Linked DNA regions of Homo sapiens. The protein of the gene in region 4 interacts with the protein of the main gene of each other region in a pairwise test. Each region holds a gene or a part of one and is shown on either strand. Other genes may lie near its edges. The genes, in order: KRTAP3-2, FHL2, DAB1 and POGZ.

Region 1 (5,077 bases), on a different chromosome or scaffold from region 4:
GTACTCTTTTTCTATTATAATCCGATGTGGATTTTGTTAAAGAATCTTACATGTTTTATTTCTCTTGCATATTTTGGGTTTATTTCATAACTGTGCTCATTAAGCTTCTGGTTTCATTAGTATTGAAGGTTCTATGATGTGGTAGGAAAAATTGGGCTTTAGAGTCAGACATACAAGAGGCTGAATTCTGATTTTCTAAGTAATTAACTTTATGACTTTCAGAATGTTGAATAACGCTTAAAACTTCATTTTTTCTTATCCATTAGTGCTGTTTTAAGGACTAAATCAATAATTTACTGGTGAAGAGTAGATAAATAAATGTTGGTTCACACCAAAATTGCACTTGTCTGAGGAAGAAGAGAGAAGAGAAGGCAAACATGAAAGAGAACCTGTTAAAAGTTAGCAAGCCATGTTAGTAGTAGCAAGAATGTTAGTCATTCTGCCAATAGAGTCTTCTTTAAAAGATTAAAATAATCATCCTGTTTTTACCTTTTTAAAATGGAAGAAATATACCCAAAACTAACATAAACAAATGACACATCTTGCCAGAGAAATATAGTTTATTGGAAAACCCACCAAGAAATTTTCTTCTATGAAAATACCCAGTACAAGAAACAAGAGCCAGGAAGCAATATGATCAAGAACATGTAATCTGAGGTCTTAAAGATTGAAACAGTATTTTGCTAATAAAACTCATTCACCTGCCCACAGGAACCAAATGGTTTTTCAGCTAAATAACCATAAAAAATACTTTTCTTTTTTTCCCCCATTAAAACCAAAGGTAAGTTCTTCATATCTGGGTCATCTGGTCTACCTTAACATCTGGCAAACTACTGAGGCAAGTGAATACTGAAGGGACAGCTTCTGGATTCTTCGTTGTCGGGCACTGAGCAAAGTAGCCATCCATCAGCAGCCTCTTGGGAGGCAGGGCTCACAGCAGGGCTGAGTGAAGGTGGTGAGGTTGAGGGTCTCCAGGCCCGGAGTTGGCTGGCAGGAGTTGAGCAGGAAGCAGGTGGGCACGCAGGGCTGAGGAATGTGGCAGGGTGGGGGACAGTTGTCACAGCAGATGGGCTCCAGTAACCAAACTGTGTGTGGGCAGGTGCTGGGCAGGCAGACTCCACAGCGGCAGGATTTGTCGGAGGAGCAGATGGTGGTGGCAGGCCCAGTGGGGACACTGCAGCTGCGAGAGGCACAGCAATCCATGGCAATGGGCGTCTGGTTAGCTTTCAGTTTCTTAGATGAGGATTCTGAGGTACAAATGTCTCCTCTTTTGTTAGGGCTCTTATATACCCTCCCAAGTGGGCATTGGTCCAACTGGAAGCCTTCCTGTTTTGTTTATGGCACCCTTTTTCACTGAGATTCTCTAATCAGTTTGTCATTTACATGTCCATTAAGAGTTCCCGCTCTTATTAAGTTAATCATATTTTTGACTCATTGACTTGTCATTTTTGTCACAAGATCATCACATTTTGTCTTCACAGGTTTCTGGCATGCCAAACCTTATATGACTTTTATGGGTAATCAATCCAAGTGACAATTCAGCTGTAATTTTGGAGGCCAAACTCTTCTTGTTTTTCCCTCTTAATTTAAAATACTATGGATAATGTGATTTCTAATGACTAATTTCAGAATGAGTAACTCAAATGATGAACTGGACCATTTTCAACTCAATAAAGTCAACAAGAATATGGCTATTTACAGATGAATGTTTCATGTGACTACAGGCATCTCGGACATGTTTGCATTATTTAGTGATATTATAATTCAGGTTCTATTGAGCAAGCAAAGTGGTAGAATGGTACAGGATGAAGAAACTCCTTTTTATTATTTTTATTAAATCTGTAGTGAATTTCTCAATGTTGTATTATTCTATGGATTTTTTTTTTCTAAAATAGTCTCTATTCTCAAAGTTATGCCAATCTTGTGGTGAATCAAAGTATAAATTCATTGGAAGGAAGGATCCACACAGTGGCCATTCTTTGTTGAATATACCACTAAAAGAAAACCACCTCAGCCTTGATTCATTTTCACATGAATGGTGTACATACTTTAAAATAAGATGAAATAAGAATTAAAAGGAGAAACCACAAGAGTCACAGAACAATCATGGATTTTGGCAGGGAATCTGACTCAATGCAATTTAGAACTATGGCATTCATAAAAATCACTTTTTCACTGACTTACTCCCTACTTTGCATGTTTATTTGTTTTCATACCTTGGATCTTGAACTAGATTGAAATTCCTTTGAGGTATGCCTTAAACAACATTATTTACTTAAGTCAGCCAGAGATTGAACTAGATAATATCAAATGTGTAATATTCTAGATTCCAACATCTTCCTACACCTGTCCATGATCAGCACAAATCCTTTCAGATAATATTGTATAATTTAAATTACATACTCGTTATGTGGCAATTTGTTGACTTAACAGAAAGCAAAGATTCCGGGTAGGTTGTTTCTGAGGGGACATTACCAAAAACCAGTACGATCTACTTAAAAGAGAAGAAAGCTGGCTAAAATCAGTGGAAAATATCAAATGTCATTGGTAGGTAAGCCTTATACGTTATACGTTAAAACAACCAGTTTATCTTTTTCTTTAACAACAAAAATATGTGGTACATATATGCCATAGAATACTATGCAGCCATAAAAAATAAGGAGCTCCTATCCTTTGAAGAAACATGGATGGAGCTGGAGGCTATTATCTTTAGTAACTAATGCAGAAACAGAAAACCGAATACTGCATGTTCTCACTTATAAGTGGTAGCTAAATGATGAGAACGCATGGACACATAGAGGGGAATAACAGATGCTAGAACCTATCAGAGGGTGGAAGGTGGGAGGAGGGACAGGATCAGGAAAAATAACTGGTAGGTACTAGGCTTAATACGTGGGTGATGAGATAATCTGTACAACAAACCCCCATGACACCAGCTTACCTATGTAACAAACCTGCACAGGTACCCCTGAACTTAAAAGTTAAAAACAAAAAAACAGAAAACAGCTTCAAATCATTTTTATTAGCAGGAATTTACAACAAATGCCAAGGGTGTCGAACATCATACTGTTACCAGATGGTGCCATGCAGTTCCAGGCTTTTGGTGTCCCAAAGAATTGGACGAGACACCCACAGCAAAACAAAGAAACAAAAGTGTATTAAGCACAGTATTACACTCTAAGAGGGGGAGAGCAAACCAGCCTCTGTGAGATGAGATCAGCCCCCAGCTTGGTGCAGTTTGCGTCTTTGTGTGTGTGTGTGTGTGTGTATGTGTGTGTGTGTGTCCCTTCCCAAGGCTGCCTAATCTCTAGCCAGTGTTTGCCTCTTTGATTGACAGGTGTGTTGCTTAGTTACTTTGGCCCCTGTGTGCTTGCGCACCACCTCCAGCCCATAATTTTAAGTACATACATGATATGCAGTCCATATGCATAAGCCTGAATGAGCTGATTTTCATACAAGGTCATGTTAAGGATACGTTTTCTCTTTAATGCACATGCTTATCCATGAAGAGTTGCCCCTTACTGGTTTGGTCCTTATCTTGCCGGCCATGGGGGCCTTGCTTTCTTCTCTATCTTACTTTTTGTTTTGGCTGGAGTGCAGTGGCATTCTCTGCTCACTGCAGCCTCTACTTTCTGGGATCAAGTGATTCTCCTACCTCAGACTCCCAAGTAGCAGCTGGGATTACAGGTGCCCGCCACCACACCCAGCTAAGTTTTGTATTTTTTGTAGAGAGGGGTGTTTCTCCATGTTGGCCAGGCTGGTCTTGAACTCCTGATCTCAAGTGATCCACCTGCTTCGGCCTCCCAAAATGCCAGGATTACAGCATGAGCCACCGCGCCTGGTCTAACTTCTGCTTCTTATCTTGCTTCTTGCTTACCTGCCCCTTCACCTTGCTTCTGGTCTCTGCTTTTATTCACTCCACCCTTTATCCAAGTTTTAATTCCCTTTGCTAGTCTCCTGCCTCAATACCTGCACTTTACCACTGAAGAACAGATAAGCAAATTCAAGTGGCTTTCCCAGTATATTATAAAATTCAAAGTTAATGAACTAGTATTGAAATCGTCAAGGAAATGTTTAATGTTTACTTACTCTTGACTTACCAGTCTCTCTCATCTAGAAGCCAGTGGCTTGGCAAGTAGAATATATGAAGAAGACCCTCTCCCATTCTCTGTGTTCTCTCTGACTTCTCTTTTAAAATCGATTTTGAAATATTATATAGATTCAGGAGATCTACTGTACAACATGGTGACTATAGTGAATAACCATATATTGCATTTTTGAAAAACGCTGAGAGAATGGATTAAGTGTTCTCATCACAAAAATGATAACTATGTGAGTCACGCATATGTTAATCATACAGCACATTACATAAAGTGAAGGCGGGAGTCTCCTAGGTACTTTACCCTCTGTGACCTCGTTCATACTGTTTCTTTAGCTTAAAGTGACCTTTCCCAATTCTCTAGTTTCCAAATCCTGTTGATCCCTCAAGATTCAGCCAAACATCCCCTTCATAAAGAAACTCTAGGTGATTCTTCTAGATGTTTGCATCCTTTTCTCTGCTCTCACAAAATGGGCTGCCTATTCTTCCCTTTCAACCTCATTTCTTTCTGCTATATTTTGTAGTTTGTCACTTAAATTTGTTTTCCTCACTCCAATGCAAGGTTCTTGGAAGTGGTAATCGTATGTTAGTTTTATTTGTCTTTTTCAAGCACCTAGGACAATGCCTGAAACAGGGTAGGCATTTGATAAATATTTGTTGAATTGGATTACATTTCAGATTAGAATTAAAAAGGTATTTATTTATTTTTATAATGGCCTTTTATAACAGTAACACTTTATATAAAGAGAGTGATTCATTTTTTGTGTGAATTGCTTTACAGTTGTCAAAACTTTTTTTTTTTTTTGAGATGGAGTTTTGCTCTTGTTGCCCAGGCTGGAGTGCAATGGCACGATCTTGGCTCACAGTAACCTCTGCCTCCCGGGTTCAAGCCATTCTCCTGCCTCAGCCTGAGGAATAGATGGGATTACATTCATGCTCTACCATGCCCGGCTAATTTTGTATTTTTAGTAGAGACGG
Region 2 (7,053 bases), on a different chromosome or scaffold from region 4:
AGTTTTGGTTCCGAGTTAGCTGGTGTTTTAGGACTTTCTAATCAAGGCCAAGATCCATGTCTTCACATCCTACATTCAGCATAACTCCAGCTTCGACTTCGGTTTCAGTAACAGAGACATCGTGGGCAGGCTCTTCTTCAGGGCCATCGCGTGAACAGCCCTCCTGTGCCCTGTTCAGGATACCTACCAACTGGAAGCCTGCCCAGGAAACCGTGCAGAGCCTAATACTCTGTTTCTGCCTCATGTATAAATGGATGATGATTTGGGGTCAGAGCTGGGAACACAAAGACAGCAATAGAAACATATCCTTTCTAAGATAAAGCTGGGCATAAAGAGATTGTTATTTTAATTTTGTGTTGGCACTTTAAAAATGCCGTATGTCATTTTTAAAAGGCAAATATGGAGGGTTCTCTTATTCCTCAGGCAAGATGAAGCCAAGTGTGGAGTCGAGTTTTCTGCGGGGCTCCTTTCTCTCCCTCATCTTTTACTCAAAAGCACACGTCTGTCTTCTCAGGGCCTCTCTCATGTGTGCTCAGTTTTTGTCTCACTTCTCCCACCCTCACGCCCCTCCACTCCCACATCCTTACCCGTCCCCCAGTCTGAGCACTTCACTCTCCTGTTGAAAAGCAGCTGTCCACTGCCTTCAGGATCAATGGAATCTCTACACAGACATAAAAGGCAAAAAGGCAGCCATATCTTCCAGTCCAGCCAGGCCGGGGGGCCCTCCCACCTCGCCCCTGGCCTGTGGTCCCTCCAATCTGACATGCCCCCCGTCCCCAGATCTTCTGTGTCTGTGCTCTTTCTCTGCCTGAAATTCCCTTCCTCCCCCAGCTCACGGCCACCCACAGAGGTAGCACCCACACACACAGTCTCTCCTGACCGTCTCCCACCAAACAGTCCTTGGGCCTCCTGTGAACATCCCGACACCCAGAGCCTCTCTGCCATGCCGGTGACCACAGTGATCTGAGTTGGGCAGGGCTCCCTCAGCCAAGGATGTCCTGCAGTCTGTTTCTCTGTCACCGGATGTGGTGTGAGACGAATTGATAGGTGTTCATGTTTTCTGTTTCTCTTTCTTGCAGGCAATACATAAGGGAAATCCCTTTGTTTTTTAGAAGCATCTCTCACACACAGACATGTGCATACATGCACATCTGTCTAACCTGTTGCTCTAAAATGCAGCAAGAGAAAAGCAGCCTAGTCTTAATTGATTTCAGCAGTTAGGTGGTCCTGGGGCATGAATGTGGGTGCGCCAGGGTGCCTCGGCCCAACTTCTTTCCTTGTTTGCCCTGCAGATTCGCAAGGGGCCCCTATGCTGTGGGTCCAAGCCCTCCTGTCCTGCCTCTGACTGTCTTGTGTGGTCTGGCCCCACAGGACTTGTCTTACAAGGACCGGCACTGGCATGAAGCCTGTTTCCACTGCTCGCAGTGCAGAAACTCACTGGTGGACAAGCCCTTTGCTGCCAAGGAGGACCAGCTGCTCTGTACAGACTGCTATTCCAACGAGTACTCATCCAAGTGCCAGGAATGCAAGAAGACCATCATGCCAGGTCAGGAGGCACTCCTTTCTCATGCGTGAGCCAGTCTAGCTTCAAGCCTTGTGCACGTTCCTCTGACCCCCTGTTCACATTGACTTGGTTCCAGACACTCGTGTTGACTTTCCAGTTTGACCTTGAACTGCAGAGGAGTATTTAGAGTACTTACGAAGCAGGGACATACAGGTTCTATCATGGGCAGTAACGGGATCTTTTTGCTGTGCACGTGGGGCAGTGTTATGCAGTCAAATTGTTAGAGTAAGAAAATGGTGGGTATCCCCCTTAAAAATACATCTCCTGCATCAGCCCCCACTCTCCCACCACCATAGATAGTTTCTCTTTTCTTCCCTTCTACCTGCTGAATTTGTACTCATTCAGTTATTTCACCAAGTGTGCATGGTGCCCTTGCGTGCCAGGCACTGGGCTCGAGCTGAGCATTCGTAGGGTGTGAGCCGAGGTGCACCTGGTCCTCTGCCCTTGTAGAGTTGGTGTTCTAGACGGACAGTCAAAAAGGGCACAGCCGCAACTGGGCCAGGTGCCGAGGATGGCAATAAAGGTGCCTTGTGTGTTGATGGGACTGTGTCCCTCATGGTTTTTTTGTGTGTGTATGTGGGGGGAGTTATTTGTTTTGTTTTGTTTTTTATGTAGGAGAGCAGAATCTTTTATTTTAAAAAGCAAAGTGGACAAAAATATGTGGAATTTCAAAATACAGAAAGAAGCTGGGTGCGGTGGCTTATACCTGTAATTCCAGTACTTTGGGAGGCTGAGGTGGGTGGATCACTTGAGGTCAGGAGTTTGAAATCGGCCTGGCCAATGTGGTTCAGTGGTGCAATCTTGACTCACTGCAACCTCTGCCTCCCAGGTTCAAGAGATTCTTCTGCCTTAGCCTCCTAAGTAGCTGAGACTACAGGCGTGCACCACCACACCTGGCTAATTTTTGTATTTTTAGTAGAGATGGGGTTTCATCATGTTGGTTTGCTTTGTTTTTGATAATAAAGAAATACTGAAGAGACTGACATATGGGAAATAGTTTAGAAATATATGTAGGATGCCAGGTGTGGTGGCTCACCCCTGTAATCCCAGCACTTTGCAAGGCTAAGGAGGGCGGATCACGAGGTCAGGAGTTTGAGACCAGCCAGGCTAACATGGTAAAACGCTGTCTCTACTAAAAATACAAAAAATTAGCCGGGCATAGTGGCGGGCGTCTGTAGTCCCAGCTACTCGGGAGGCTGAGGCAGGAGAATGGCCTGAACCCAGGAGATGGAGCTTGCAGTGAGCTGAGATCACGCCACTGCACTCCAGCCTGGGTGACAGAGTGAGACTCCGTCTCAAAAAAAAAAGAAAGTTATGTAGGATAAGGAATAATCATTTTTTAAAAAGGCAAGGAGGTAATCTGACCTTTGGTAAGATGGTTTCTTACTGCCACTACATTTCTCTGGTTAATATAACTTTAAAACAACTGTGACACACTATGACAGGGAAGAAAAATGCCCAGGCTGACACAGTCCCAGCCCTGTTGGCAGCTGTAAGGGAAAACAGCTGGAAGGGCTGCATGGTGACTTTAGATGGGGCAGCTCCAGGCAAGAAGGCCTCTTCTAAGATCATGTGGATCCTGCAGAGGCTGGAAACTCGGGCCCCAGTGCTGTGCGACAGTGCAAATGAGAATTGAAGCCCGTAGAAAGCCAGGCTGACCTGTGTCCTGCCCCACAGGGAGTCACTGCAGAGACACAACACTCAGTAACAATAAGAACCACGACATTAATTGAAAAACAAATTAAACCCTTACTAGTTTCCTGAACAAGGGCCCAAGGAAGCTTCCACTGGGGACTCTAGGGGCTGTTTAAAGACTTTAACTGTTAGCACCAACCATGACATAAAAAGTATGCATATTTCCCGGATTTTGAATTTTTCACCTGTCTTGACTTTCTGTGTTAGTCACGTTCTCCAGAGAAACAGAATCAATCAAGGAAATGTATACACATAGATACATACATAAGGAGAGAGAGAGAGAGAGAGAGAGAGAGAGATTTCAAGGGATTGGCTCATGAGATTGTGGAGGCGGTAAGTCTGGAATCTATAGAACAGGGCAGCAGGCTGGAGGCTCAGGGAAGAGATGATACTGCAGTTCCAAATGGGAGCATTTGAATTCCGTAGGGCGGCAGGCTGGAAACTCAGGCAGGGTGTGTCTATTGCAGTCTTGAGAAGAATTAGTTGCCCTTAGGGAAACCTTAGTCTTTGCCCCTAAGGCCCACTACCGATTAGATGAAGCCCGGCCCTGATACGTGGGTAACGTGCTGCACTCGAAGCTTGCTGACTTAGATGTTAGTCACATCTAAAAAACACCTTCACGGCAACAAGTAAACCTGTTTTTTGACCAAACAACTGGGTACCAGAGCCCAGCCACGCTGACACATAAAATTAACCATCACACCTTCCCTTTCTCATGGTGTTTACTGGGGAGGGAAAGAAAAGAAAAACATGATCAGATAAGAAGTAAAAACCTAATGTTCAGTGAGAGGTAACCCATACTGAATATCTGAGAATTAACTGGCCGGCAGCCTCTTCTACTAAGGAATGGGGGAAGCAAGAATTCAGGCTCTGTGGTAAGAAATGCTGTGTAGTAATAATAACAACACAGCTACAGCTTCCAGCCCCTGAGCACACACACAGGCGTCAGACCCTGCTGCTTTACAGAATCCCATTGAATCTTCGGTGTTCCCTGGGTTGGATGGCTTCATCCCCATTTTACAGGTGCCTCTGCCAGAAGAAACGGACTGGGCACCAAAGGCAGGGCGTCTAGAAGAATCCCGGTGTATGCAAAACAAACCAGCACCGACAAAACACTGAATCAAAGCACTTGCTTGCCTGGGTTTGATTTTTAAAAGTGTTAGAACCCATTCAAGATGAATATGGGTTTACAGCGTCAGTGCACAGCTTTTGCGGTGAATTTACATTTAGAGGACAAGTGAAAAACTCACCCACCAGCTCCACACCCCCCACACAAGTCAGTTTCCTGATGACCAATCAGGAAACTGGAATACCATCAGTAACCCCAGTGCTGGGGTTTACCGGCTCTCGCGCCCCTATTAGCAGACGTTGCTTACAGATGCACCACAGCCTCTGAGCAGACTCAAGTAGCGATTCTGTCTCCAACCCTGCAACCAAATTTCTGGCTCCTCATTTGACTTTTTTTTTTTTTGAGCCAGGATCTCGCTCTTTCGCTCAGGCGGGAGAGTAGTGGTACGATCACTGCTCACTGCAGCCTTGACCTCTCGGGCTCAAATGATCCTCCCACCTCAGCCTCCTACGTGTCTAGGACCTCAGGCACACACCACCACACCCGCCTAATTTTTTTTTTGGGGGGGTAGAGACAGGGACTCTCTATGTTGCCCAGGCTGGTCGCCAACTCCTGGGCTCAAGAGATCTCCCGCCTTAGCCTCCCAAAGTGCTGGGATTACAAGGCTGAGGCACCGCAGCCAGCCTCATTTGACTATTTGAATCAGATTAAGACATCCCTTCTTCAAGACTGCGCTTCCGCCTGCGGGAGACTTGGTTCAGAGTGTGCGATTCAGTTAGGAGAAGGAACGCTCCTGCCACCTGCCGGTATTGCTGCATATGACCATGCAGGCTTGCGGCCACTGCTGTCGCCATGCCTGAGGTGCACGCGCCATGTCCCTGAGGCTCCAGGTGCCCTGTGCATTCCCTGCACGTAGAGTTGCCCTCGAACTGGTGTTGATCTGATCAGACTTATTTCAGAACTCGACAAGAATGCCATGAGAGTCATAATTGCCCCATATTCATTGGCAAAATCCTTTGGCTTCTGGGCTGCTTGATCAGAATGAATGTCAGAGATCCAAAGAGCAAGTGACAAAAGTATGCATGGAGGTTGAAGAAAATCTTTGTGAATTCAAAGTCCTTCCACTATTTTTACTTGAATTTCAATTGCTTCATGTAATGTTTGTTTTAGGATTCATCACCCCACAATTGAATTCCATAGATTGTACAGCTTAGTTTTGAATTAAAAGATCGCTGCGTGTCACCATCCCAAATTCCCTCTCACACATTGCCCCCCAACACACACCCTGCTTATTTTATATAATCTCAAATGTCTGGTCTTGGAAGTACAGGAAGCTGAGAAAATGATCCTAAATAACAATCGTGATAATTCTCAGCACATTCCTAATTACTGGAGGACAGACATTTCATGACCAACTTTCTAGCCAGCTAAAATACAACCCCTAGCTTTGTCCTTGGGACCATAAGATTTTGGGGCTGAGAGCTATGGACTAGTCTATAGACTCCTATAAGCCACCTGTGTTACTGCAGCTGCTTCCACCTGGTCTGGAGCGGGGCAGTCCCTCTGTCGGCTTGATTCCCCATCATTCCCTGACCCCCAGTTGAAGTCACATGTATGTGACCCTCATGCCACAGTCCCCAGGGATTGGCAACATTTTTCCTTCAAAAATCAGATAAATATTTGGGGCTTTGTGGACCATACAGTCTCTGTCACAACTACTCAACTATTACAACTACACAACAACTGCACAACTGCACACAGCTGCACACTACTCGGCCGTCTAGCTTAAAAGCGGATGTAAACAATGGAAGTAAATTAATGGGCGTGGCTGTGTTCCAATAAAACTTCATTTGAAAAGCAGGCAGCAGTCTGGATTTGGTCTTACACAGTGGCCAGGCCCCTCAGCTAGTCCGGGCACTTACAACACTTTCCTCTTTCTTTGTCCCTGATACTTATTTCCCCAGATTGTTCTTTACCTTTGCTTTATATGAAGGGTACTTGTTTATACGCCTATCTGGAATCATCCGTTACTATAAATAGATACACTTCTTTCTGGCAAACAAAAATGAAAAAATGTCAGTCAACAGACACCGAGCACTTGCAGTGAGTCCAGCTTGGTGGTGGCAGGGGTGACCCATAAGTGTTTCAGTTCTCTAGAGCTCCTCAGTTCACTTGGAGAAATGGTAGAAATGTATCAAATGCTAATAGTTATTCAAAAGACAATGGATGGCGTAGGTTTAGGCAATTACTAAATGGGATGTACAAGTAACACATGAAGATTTCAGCCAGGCATGGTGGTGTGCACCTGTAGTTCCAGCTACTCAGGTTGAGGCAGGAGTTTCCCTGGAGCCCAGATGTTCAAGGCTGCAGTGAGCCAGGATCGCACCACTGCACTCCAGCCTGGGTGACAGAGTGAGACCCTGTCTCGAAAACAAAAAAAAACTACATGTAGGTTTTAATTATAGCACTTAGTACAGTGCATAAAACTACCTAGATACATCACAACTTGGTTCAACAGGCAGTATGTAAAGTGAGTGTTGTAGAGGCTGCTCACTGAATCAGGTTCGAGGTTCCAGGTTCATTCACACTCTAGCCATTTCCATCCTGCTGTGAACCAGACGGGGTGTTCATTATCAGGTGTGCAATAGGTGAATACAGTCCCTAGACTCCAAAAGTCATGCTCCATGGGAATTCATCGGAGCTATGCCACACTTCTCTTTATACT
Region 3 (7,000 bases), about 94 Mb from region 4:
AGTGAAGATGCTGTGAAGATTGTTGAAATGACAGCAAAGGATTTACATAAACTTATTGATAAAGCAGTGTCAGGGTTTGAGAGGACTGACTCCAATTTTGAAAAAAGTTCTGCTGTGGGTAAAATACTGTCAAACAGCATTGCATTCTATAGAGAAATCTTTCATGAAAGGAAGAGTCAATCAATGTGACAAACTTCATTATTGTCTTATTTTAAGAAACTGACCCAGCTACTTCAATCTTCAGTAACCACCACCTTAATCAGTCAGTAGCCACCAACATTGAGGTAAAACCCTCCACCAGCAAAAAGATTATGACTTGCTGAAGGCTCAGCTGATCATTAGCATATGTGAGCAATAAAGTATTTTCAATTAAGGTATGTACATTGATTTTTTTACATAATGCTATTGCACCCTTAACAGACTACAGTATAGTGTAAACATAACTTTTATATACACTGGAAAACCAACAAATTTGTGTGACTCACTTGATTGCAATATTCTCTTTATTGCAGTGGCCTGGAATGGAACCAGCCGTATCTCCCATGGATGCCTGAATTTATTTAATAGTAAGCATTCAAAAACACCCATGATTTTCCTCCTCTCCTGACTATTTGCCATTTAGAATAAGAAATACAGGTAGCATATGATGAAAATTAATATATAGCTAGAAAATATAATTTTAAAGATAACATTTACAATGGCAATTACAAAAATATAAACCACCTAAAACTCAATCTAAAAAGAGTGCATGCCCTTTGAAGAAAATTATAAACTGTATTGAAAGACATTAAATAAGAACTAAATAAATGGAAAGAGTTACTACATTTACAGATAGAAAGACTCAGGCTCAATGTCCTAATGATGGCATTATCTTTTAATCAGTCTATAAGTTTGATAAAACTCAAATCAAATCTCAACAGTATTCTTGTGAAACCTTGAAAGATGATTATAAAATGTATACGGAAGAAAACAGCCCAAGAAAAGCCAAGACACTCTTGAGACACTTTTGCAGAAGGACACTTTTAGGGATGTGTCCTGGCCAATACCAAGATTCATTAAAAAGCTATAATAAAGTTTGGTTAGGGCAAAAGAGTGGCTAAAACATATGCTTAGAAATTGACTCTAAGTTCCAGGAAAATCATTTTTCCATATGAAAGAAAATTAGAATAAATGCCTACCTCACACAACACACACACACACACACACACACACACACACACATATATGCACACACTCCACATGGATTAGAGAACCTAAATTTGAAAGGCAAACAAAACAATAAAGCTTTTAGAAGACAACAAAGGAGAATATCTTCATGACATCAGAGTGGGAAAAAAAAGGCTTTCTGAAACAAGACATAAAAAGTGCTAACCATAAAAGATTGATAAATTCAACTACGTTAAAATTAAGAAGTTAGATAGCAGAAGGTTGGCAAAAATCCAACTTCTATGTGGTCTATAAATCTATTCAGCTTCCCAAAGGCATAAATAACCTTTTTGCATTTATTGGAACTATATTCTGACAACACATGCCATAGCTCAGATTCAGCATATGGTTGGCCCATCTTTGACTTTGTCCACAATTAGATTACTAGCACTACTGGTTTAACCTGAGTATATTTGAATGGATGTGGCTTATACCTAGAACTTTCGTGAGTAGACATATAATACTGCTCAGAATAACATGGCCTGCAATTCAAGACAAGCACCACCACATGCCATCATTATAGGTACTGCTACACCATCACCAGGGACTAGGATTGTACAGCATCTCTTCCTTACCCTCTGTGCAGCGTTTTTCTATGTTTATGATCATTCACACCACAAAGTTCATTCTTGTTCTGCTAACTGCTGGGATTTAACTGCTACTACAAAAACTACCAGGAGAAATATATATCAGTGAAAGCAAGGATAGAAAACCCTAGGGTAGATCAACTTCTAACCCCATGAGAGAAGGTAATCTACTGTCTCCCACACAGCCATGATTTTGTACCAAAAGCTTCCTCCGGTGAGCCTGTGAGTCTTCCATTTCCTTTCTCCTCTCATTCATTCTACCATGCATTCTTCACCAATATTCTGCCATTCACTCTACATGTTGACATATATACCATAATATATGAATATAGTCTGAGACAATAAGAGAAGAAAATGTCACCCACATATGACTTATGTTTAAGGTGATGTAAATTTTTTCAAGATGTCCCTTGCATATATCAAAAGAGATGCTTCTGTTGGCATGATAGTATCTAATAACAACACTCTGTTACTGATGGGAAGTTATTTCTTGGGGACCCCAAGGAATGGAACCTCATAAACTTTCAATGCATTTCATGTCAGGGTACTGAGTAATTACATAGCATTACAATTTTAAAATTTCCTCTTTGGATGAAAGCAGTTTTATTTATAATTTTTCCTATAATGGAAGTAGATAGCTCTAGTGAATCGACTGTTTTAATAGGACAGATTTGGATAAGTAGTTATTGTTAATGATTTTAAGAGATGTCAATAAAACATAGAAATGACTTTCAACAGATAATTATTATAATTCACTCCCAAATCTAGATTACAAAATAAAGAATCACAATAAAAAATGATTTTCAAGTTCACTGATCACAAAGAATTTCAATATTGTCTATGGAAAACAATTTACCCTAATCTTTTTACCCAAATTAACTTAATGAACCACAGCAGACTGAACACATTTAATTCAATTCAATTAAGCAGAAACTTATTGAGCATCTACTACATTCCAGACACCGGAGTTAAAAGGGACAGCTATATTTCCTTTCCCTAAGTAGTTCATAAATGTCCTTTATTCCAGTATAATTATTAGGCAAAATACTATTTCTTTCTTATTACCTATGTAGTGACTAGCTAGACAGTTTATAAATGTCCTTTATTTCAGGAAAATTATTGGACAAAATACCATTTCTTTTTATTATATATACAGTAATGAGCTAGAAAGTGAAGAGAATTCAGTGGAATTGTTTAGGTTTGTTCTGGAAAAATATATTCAAAAGAATTATCAAATTTAGGATAGTGACTATGTCTGCCAAGAGAAGGGGACGTATGATCAGAGAAAGGTTACCAGGAGGTTTCAACTGTATTTAACTGGCTTTATTTCATTAGCTGAGTGGTAGGTACAAAACTTTTTATTATATTGTTATTTATACTTTTTGTGTGTCTTAACCCATTTATGCCAGAGGTTGCAAATTGTTTTTTGTGAAAAATGAGACTTTGGTGATGACCTTGAGCAGTAGGATATAAATAACGCCCACAAGCTTAGCATTCCAATAAAGGAACACTAGGCATAAATGGGTTAAATATTCTGTCCTACATTTCAAATCACACACATATTATTTTCATGATAGAATGAAAACTACTCTTAAAAGGCTTAAGTGATTCTCTACATTTTTCCCAATCTATTTCATAAGACACTGAGAGATGCTACTTGAAATCAAAGGTTCTATGGCAAATGAATTTTTAAAATTCTTCATGAGTTAAATGACTTTAGTGCAGAAAATCTCTGAACCTTTAACATATCAGTAAATACCACATCTTACTAAGAACAGGATATATAATTCAATATCTTCCAAACATTTTTGAACATGGAACTTATTTTTCCCTCTGAGCCTTCTTCCTTTTGAAATATTCATAATGATCTTAGGGGACATTAGTGTTTCCTGGGACACAGTTTGGAAAATGCTCTATTAAAAAAACCCATTTTGATGCATGTTCTACATTACCTCTGTACCCAATTATGCCCATCCCTAAGTCAATAACCATCCTTCATGCTTGCATGACTTTGTCCATGAAGTCCTATCAGTCAGAACTGCCTTTAAGCCTTGAGAAACTCCTGGTCAGCCTTCAAGACCTAGGTGAAATGAAGCCTTCCCCCAGCCTTTCCTTTCTCCAGGTAGAGTAAATTACCACCTCCAGAAGGTTCCACAGCTGTATACATATTTTCCATAGCGCATCTCCTGCTGTAACAGTTATTTATGCATGAAACCAGGTCCCTAGATGGCAAACTGTGCAATTGCATCTTGGTACTCTTCACAATGCCTAGCACAGAGCCAGAGTCAAGCACAAAGTAGGTGCTCAGTAAACATTTGTTGAATGGACATAGAAGTGATGTTTATGTGCATGACCAGAATGTTCTTCCTCAATTTCCCAGATTCTCTCAATGCATATTCACAGCTTTTCAATTATTTTCAGTTGCAACACTAACATGAATAAAAACAAAGAGACATAAAGACTGAATGTGACAAAGGCAGATAGAAACGAGGAAAGACAGAGACAGAGAAAGAGCAAAGAAAGAGATACCTGAATTGATGGATACCAAGTAAACAAATCATGAGTCCATTCAAGAGATGCAGAGACTGACCAACAAAGAAAATTGTAAATCAATATGAAGCTCGGAGCAGATGCATGGGGTTGGTAATTTGCAAGACTCACTACAGGTGGTCAAGAGGGCCGATTTGGGTTCATGCTGAACTACTTACAACTATTTGGGAGGACCCATCCCCTTATTTTTATACCATAAGTTAAACAGCCCGCCTTCACCACCACAAAATTTTCGTCATTTTAGCTGTCATCTCTTCTATTCAGCAGAATTTTATTTATATTTTCCTTTCTGTTTATGAGACTCCCCCACTGGCATTGCAGATTGGTTATATGTCAGCTTCAAATAAAATAAAATAATAATAATAAAAGCAAGCTTGCAATTTCTTTCCAATAGAATATGCTACATATTTCATAAAATAGATGCCAGAGGAGTTTTATGATTCCTCAACCAAAACCTTCCCACATCTCAAAACTAAATGGAAGAAAAATAAAAAGAACATGTCAAAGAAAAAGAAATCTGAACATTTGCTCTCCAATCAGAGGGAAATATCCAGGTGATTAATTTGATTAATGAGTTGTTTTCATTTTTTTACATGAATTTATATCCTGATATGCATTTCACAGATTCAGTTCAGTGTGAGTTTTCATGGATATAAATGTACATACCAGAGGAGGGGTTTTCTTTTCCTACTGACATGCTTTTTTCAGTACAGAATGTCTAGCTGGCTCATGCTCTTAGCCTGACAACACCTCCTCTGCCAAGTTTTATTTATATTTTCAAGCCACGTCTCTATCCTGGTATAGGAGACAATCTGGTCTAGTGAAAGGAGCACTGGACAAGGAGTCCAAGAATCCTGAGTTGCGATGGCGCCTCTGGGCTGTAAAGTTACGTATCTCTGCAAGCCTAATATTCTTTCAATCTGTAAATTAGGACAGTTGACAAACACACCTCTAGAATTCAATCAAAGTCATTTTACTTTCCTCAGAATAACTGCGGAAAAGTAAAATGGCATGGAAATTTTAACATGATGTGTACTTCCACAACTCCTCTTCACAAAGAGCCAAAATGTGTAAGGAAATATTTCCAATTAAAAAAAAAAAAAAAAAACCTTTGCCTAAAATCCTAAAATGTATCTCTTCCTAAAGATAGACCAGATACTATTGGGATACATAACTCTCAGAATATCAATGATGGAAAACTTTTTCATTATCTAGGAGATGGGTTTTTATCTCATTTGAAAGATAACACTAATAGCTAAGTAACTTTACATGCTAGGTATTATTCTAAGCACTTTGTGTTAGTTCCTGTAATCTTCATAATTTTATGAGGTAAGTACTGTTATTTCATTATAAAGAAAACTATAAAGCACAGAGAAGTTAGATTAGCTGGCCAAGGCCACACAGCTTACAGAGCTGGTAGAGCTGAGATCTGAAGCCAGGCAGTCAGTCCAGAAACGAAGTCCAGACTCCTTACCACCTGCTATACCACCTTTTAGTTTGAGAATCTCTGCTTACCACAGCTAGTAACTGAGAAAAGCAGTAATGCTGTTTCTGCGTTACTAATTGCCTAAACAATTATTTACTAATTGATTACTAATTGTTACCTAATTAATAAACATTTTCACAGAGTAAATAGATGTGAACCAATACTAACCAATGCCTGATAGAAACTGCCACAGAGTCACAAGTGTTCAAAGTGCCTATCATTGCCCCACTCCCTGTTGATGATAAGGTAACACCCATTTTGTTTGCTAGCATCCAAAAATGGGGAAATATGTAGCTTGCTCCTATAGAAGTCTTACTATTTCATTATTCTCCATTAAATTTTACACCCTGGGAGCTAGCTGGGATCACTTCCTCACTCAGAGGCAGCATAACAGTGGTTAGGACAGACCCTGGAACAAGAATGGCTAGGTTTAAATCCTAGTTCCATCCCTTACTTGCTATGTAATCTCAGGCCAGTTACCAAATCTTCCTGTGCCCCAGTTTCCTTATCTAGCTAATACAAATGAGAATACAAGTATCCACATCCTAGGGTTATCTGAAGATTAAATAAGTTAATATGTGTAAAGTGCTTAGAAGCATTCCTGACTCTTAGTAGTACTCCATAAAGGTTAATTATTCTTTTTTATTAACATGAAAGGTGACTTGCCAAACATCACAAAGTCAGAAGTAGCTGGATTCAATCCTGGTCTTCCAATTCCAAATGCCATCCACTTTCTTGAACAGAATTCCATGCTGTCTATTACTAAGAGATCATTCTCTTGAAATCCTGCTATGTGCCAAAGCACCCAATCATATGATTTTCTCCATAAAATTGCTCCAAGACCCACAAGGTAGGTAATATTGTCCGTTTTGCAGATGATGAAAGCAAGGTTCTGGGAAGTTGAGATTCATCCTCAACTGCTTAACTCAACCACGAGTATTCTTTGTCTCAGTAAGTCCTAAATAACATTTAAAGTTCCGGACAATACCCTTCAATTTATGCTATTTTTAAAGTGCCATCTAAGAGACATAAACTGTGATTTTCTTGCTTTGTTTGCTTTATTAGTTTGAGAGAAGGATTAAATCCCAGCAAAAACAAAATGTTTGACTTGAGTGAATTATCAAAATGAAATGCTGCCTCCATTAGATTCTTCATCTGCCTGCAGGGTGGC
Region 4 (5,324 bases):
AATGTTGGCTGTGATTTTCATTAAAATACCACTTTAAAAATAATCTAGTAGAACTATTCTGCATCAGGTTGCCCTCAAGTCAGCTGGGGCATCAGCCATCCCTGGAATGGTTCTAAACCTGAATATTTTAGAGACAAAAGTCTCATTCTGTTGCCCAGGCTGGCGTGCAGTGGCATGATCATAGCCTACTACAGCCTTGAATTTCTGAGCTCAAGCAACCTCCTGCCTCAGCCTCCCAAGTGCTGGGATTACTGGCATGAGCCATCATGCCCAGCTTGAATTTTTAAAATGAACACTGTAGGCGATTCTGACACAAATCCTCTCCAAACTTCTTGAGAAAGAAAATATAGGCAGCAAATTCAAAGTACAGAAATTCAGTGAGAACTGAAGGAAAAAATAAAACCATCCCTCCATTTGCATTGTCCGTTAACAACAAACTTGTAAAGCCAAACAATGAGCTTTCAATCTGAAACCTCCACACATTCAGTCTCAACACAGGAAACAGTCAATAAATACATGTTTATTGATTAAACTGAATTATAAAAAACAAAACCAAAAAAAAATTTCCTTCTACTACTAAGCCATGCAGGCAGAGTCCACAAAGACAACTTCCTGGCCAAAACCCAGCTGATCCACTGTTGGTATAATCTTAAAAAAAATTACCCATCAAGAAAGTCAATCGTGTGCAGAAGACAGGAACCCCAGCTCTGCTAAGGCTGTGGCTGCTGCAGAGACTACCAAAGAGTAGGATTAGGTTGTAGATAGACGTGACCAACCATAGTTCTTGAACTTTCTCAAAGGCAAAGGCTGACTTCAAAGTCCATTGTCTGTCAATAAAATGGCATCAGGCAAAAAGCTGGGGAAGAGAAGCCCAGATGGATCCTTGGTTGTTTTCAGATGTCAAAGGTTCACAAAGCTGGCCAAGCTGTTTCTGGAAGGGACTTTTCCAGTTCACTATATTATAGTGTGCTGGGGGATGAAAAAACAAACAAACAAAAAAGCAGGGTGGGGTGGGAGAAATGGGTGGTAACAAATGTCACACCTGTACCACCAGGCCCATCACATCTTGAGCATTCCCCAGTCTGTGAAAGCCTATTAAACAGGGTCACCTAGAAAAAAAACAAGTTTATAAATCCATTTCCCCTCATTTTATTAAATGTTCCACTTATGTACATTTTAAAGACGAACCATTTACAAGCTTGTGCAGTTTGCCTCCTTGGCTCACAGGAGGGGAACATTGTGGAAAGCCTCAGGATAAACAGAAGACTTGGTTTTTTGCTCCTTTTCTCTGTACGGTACAGTACGTTTTGGTTTACAACCATGAGTACATACAATTAAAAAAATCCCTCATGCAAATTGTAGAAAAAATTTTCTTTCCTTGAAGCTGGCAGTGAAAAATAAAGATTCATGTCATTTTCTTTGTGCACACCCCTGTGCGCTTCTTCCTGTCAGATTCTTCCCTAAGTATTAAGAGAAATAGGGGAAAGCCACAGAGCACGCTGGATTTCAACAAGTGGTCTTGTCTTTTTAAAGTTCAACACTTCTTGAACAATTAGCTCCTGGCTGTAGGACCAGTAATCCCTTAAACAGGCATGCTCTCCATCTAACAGGATGAAGTTCAGTAAAGCAGGGACTGCCCCTGGGGGCTTACAGGATGAAGACTCAAACTGGGAATGGCTTCCACCCTAAAACTGTTTGATCGCTTCAGTATCTCTTGCTTGCTAATAACACCTGTATGATCCTTTGTCCAGAGGGATGGATGGTGTTGAGAATGGGGAAAGGGGCCAAGGATCACAAGTGCAAAAAATATTGTTTATGTCATGTTTTGGAGGGAAGGTGGTGAGGAAAAGACAAATCTATTCATTCTGGATAATTAAAGGTGGTTTCATGCATTTTTAAAGCCACAATTTTATATCTAGGGTTGCTGTAGAAACCAACATCTCTGGAGAGGGAAGGAAAGAAAAGGAGAAGGAAGAGAGAGTTCAGTGGGACTTTTTTTCCATTTTCATTTTTATATAAAAGTGTTAAGACCACAATGAAAAAAGTTTTTTATCCATATATATAATAAACCAGTTTGTGAGCTACATAATTTGTCTTTCCCATCTTCAGAAATGTTCTCACATTAACAATGATTAGATAGCATCATGCCCAAAGACATTGGCCACACAATAAAACAAACAAAAAAACCCAGTACTATGATACAATTGAGGTAAAAGGGGAAACAAAAAAATTTAACATTTGCCCACAAATAATTTTTTTTCTTTTTCTTAATTTTGTCAGAAAAATACCAAACACAGTGATTTAAATTTAAAAAAAAAAAAAGTCACAAAAACCTGTTTTTAGCAGAAGTGAATGACCAATGGGCCAGCTCCTTGGCTCAGACGTGATTACTATTGGTTTTCCTAATTAATCCACAAATCCACAGGGAAGTGTAAGTCAACTTCAGGGGGGAGTGGTGGTATAAAATTAAAAAATAGAAACCAAATACCCCACCTGGTATGCCCCCTTTTCCCTAAGCCCCTTTACCCTCCCTCACATGTTCCCACCCTCACTCCACACCCCCTCATGACCCCAACACTCAAATCTCCATCAGATCTAGGTCAGCTTCTTCAAAGCCATAGAAAGACTCGGTCTCACTTTCACCCTCAAAGAGCTGGTGAAGACTTTCAGGCTCAATTGTCTCTTCAGGAGATGATCTGGGTCGTGGAGTGGAAGACTCAGAATGTTCCCCACTCAGCTTCAGTTGCTCCTCTAGGGAGGCAATTAGCTCCTCCTGCATGTCAGCATTTCTTGTAGGTGAGTTAATGTTGCCATCGGGGCCAGGCAGAACACTAGCCACCAGGAAGGAGCGCTGAACTAGCTCTGGACAGTCCCCAATGACACCTAGCACTTCACCCAGCCAGACAAGCACCAGCTGAAGCAGGACATCAGAATCACATGCAGTATCTGCCATTTCCCGAGCCTGTTCCTTCCATTTTTTATGCAGGAAGTTCTTGACAGTTCTTTTGATGCATACATCTAATGGCTGAATTTTGGAGCTACAGCCTGCTGGGACCACTGCAGGCAAAGTGCTAGAGGCACTAAGCATAGCCAGTACCTCTTCTGACAAGTGAGTGCGATGACAGTCCATCACAAGCATGCCTTTGCTGCGCTGGCAAGCTGTGTGCTTCTGCCACACTCGAGTTGACCACAGCTCCATGATCTCGTCATCACTGTAGCCACTCTCCTTTGCCTCTAGCAATATGGAGTCTGGCATGTTAGCAGGCTGATCCATCTGCCCTCTGTAGAAAACCAGGGTGGGAAGGACAGTGCCATCTGCCAGAATGGCTAGGACTACATCACACCAAGGTTCCCCTGTGCCCACTGTCTGCAGGGCATTCTCCTTTCGATCATCACTGCTCAGCACCTCTGTATCCAGGAACAAAGAGATCTCATCAATAGCCACAATCATAGACAAGGGTAAGTCCTGGTTGTGAATCTGCCGTTGTACAAAATCAATGAAGAGTCCTGCATTCTCTGCTACATCCTTAGGTAGGGTGTGGGCCACAGCTCGCCGGGCATGGGGAGTCAGGTGGTGCCGCAGCATGAAACGCACAGCCCACTCATAGGAGATCTTAAACCCCCCTTCCAAAGAACGTCCTATTTTGGTGGCCTTCTGGAACAAGGTCTCCTCATTTACAGGTAGCTGTTGTTCGCGCTGGGTTAGCACCCACTCAGCCAGTTTCTCTTCTGCCTCAAAGCTCAGATATTTGCCCTCTAGATTCTCCCCCTGGGAGGCCTGGAAACGTCGAAGCCAACGGCGAATACGTCGCTGGGGATTTCGGAAGTGTTCAGCTGCCTGTTCTGTATTGCAGCATAGAGCAAACAGTACTACTCGAAGCTTCTTCACAGACAGCTGCTCCTTTTTGCCAACTCCACCACTACCACCACCACCTGATGCTAGCTCAGGTTCTTGGGTGACTGGGCTCCCTTCATCCTGATCATCAACATTCAGACATTCGGCTCCCTCTGTAGCCAGCGGTGGAAGGGCTAAAGCCTGCGGGTGAGTGGGGGTTGGTGGTGGGGTTGCAGTTGAGGCTGGTGATGGGAGTGCTGGGGCTAAGGGAGTTAGTAGCTCTTCAGGCTCAGCTGGGGTGGCCCCCGCAGATTTCACAGTGGCAGCTTTGTTAGTGGGGAAGGAAGGAGGAGGGTACATATTCTTCACGTTCCGGTCATGCACTCGGTCACGAGTCTGGCCATGCCTAAAGGGGTGAGGAGCAAAGAGAAGAGGAGAAATCTCAGTTCAACTAGGAAATTGAAACAATAATATGATAATAATAATAATAATAACAGAGTAAACACACTGCAAACCAGAAATTAAATTGTGAGGTGAGTTTTTGTTACCTTGAGTGAGCTATCCAAGTGAGTCCTATGGAAAATGAAACAACAAAAATAGTTAGCTCAGTGAAAAAATAAGCCCTCCAAAGACAGTGCCCTGGGATTCAACTTACTACATACAAATACGCTGTTCGCAGTGACCAGCTTTCCCAGTTTTATATAAACTTCAGGTCGGAAGGTTTCTAATTAGGTCCAGCACATCTCAACAGTGAATGAGTGAGGCCAAGTAGGTATGCTCCTGATGCATACAGTACGAACCTGTATCTTTTTTCCTCCCCTTGCTCAACTAATCCCCTTCTCTCCTACTTACCCCGTGGCAGGATGCTGCTGGATCTGTGAGAGGGGTTGAATACCAAATGCTTGGCCATAGCATCGCCCACAGAGGTAACAAAGGTACATGAAGTGCAGGCCAGCTTGATTCCACTAAAAAAGAGAATTGAGACTATGTAAGACAAACACAGCAGTGACACTTGAGACCATTAAGCTTTGAGGCTTAAGAAAGAAAAGGAATGCCCTCCCACTTTCTCCTTTTTCTGAAATTAATTCACATAACCACCTCTCCAAATAATGAAAAACCTGAAAATTAATGTAAAAACCTGAAAAATTAAGATGCTGCCAATAAGTTTTTTCTTACCTCACAGAATTTTTAAACAAAGCCAAATACTTGGGGCTCTTCCGTGGAACATGATTGCTGAGAAAGACAAAGAAGTGGTATGAGTTACGGAGTTCTGCTGGCTAAGCTAGAGATCACCAGCCAGTGACAATGCCCCCAACAAAAGAGACACTTCTTCAGTGCACCCTAATCTCAACCTAAGCCAGTTTTCCTGTCACCATGCTTCTTAAACTTTAATATGCATACAAGTCACTGAGGATCTATTAAAATTCACATTCTGGTTCAGTAGGCCTAGGGCGGGGCTGAGAGTCAGCATTTCTAACAAGCTCCCACC

The links.
Region 1: the proteins of POGZ (region 4) and KRTAP3-2 interact in binary tests that used the Homo sapiens proteins (3 or more experiments, as listed by UniProt).
Region 2: the proteins of POGZ (region 4) and FHL2 interact in binary tests that used the Homo sapiens proteins (3 or more experiments, as listed by UniProt).
Region 3: the proteins of POGZ (region 4) and DAB1 interact in binary tests that used the Homo sapiens proteins (3 or more experiments, as listed by UniProt).

The regions. Positions count from the first base shown.
Region 1 is NC_000017.11:40,998,651-41,003,727, forward strand, and holds KRTAP3-2 (keratin-associated protein 3-2), read right to left. Parts: upstream 1,257-5,077; 5' UTR 1,204-1,256; coding exon 907-1,203; 3' UTR 543-906; downstream 1-542.
Region 2 is NC_000002.12:105,368,052-105,375,104, reverse strand, and holds part of FHL2 (four and a half LIM domains protein 2), read left to right. Parts: intron 1-1,371; coding exon 1,372-1,546; intron 1,547-7,053. UniProt on the Homo sapiens protein: May function as a molecular transmitter linking various signaling pathways to transcriptional regulation. Negatively regulates the transcriptional repressor E4F1 and may function in cell growth.
Region 3 is NC_000001.11:57,414,061-57,421,060, forward strand, and holds part of DAB1 (disabled homolog 1), read right to left. Parts: intron 1-7,000. UniProt on the Homo sapiens protein: Signaling adapter of the reelin-mediated signaling pathway, which regulates the migration and differentiation of postmitotic neurons during brain development.
Region 4 is NC_000001.11:151,402,224-151,407,547, forward strand, and holds the end of POGZ (pogo transposable element with ZNF domain), read right to left. Parts: intron 5,069-5,324; coding exon 5,012-5,068; intron 4,801-5,011; coding exon 4,688-4,800; intron 4,409-4,687; coding exon 4,384-4,408; intron 4,242-4,383; coding exon 2,579-4,241; 3' UTR 501-2,578; downstream 1-500. UniProt on the Homo sapiens protein: Plays a role in mitotic cell cycle progression and is involved in kinetochore assembly and mitotic sister chromatid cohesion.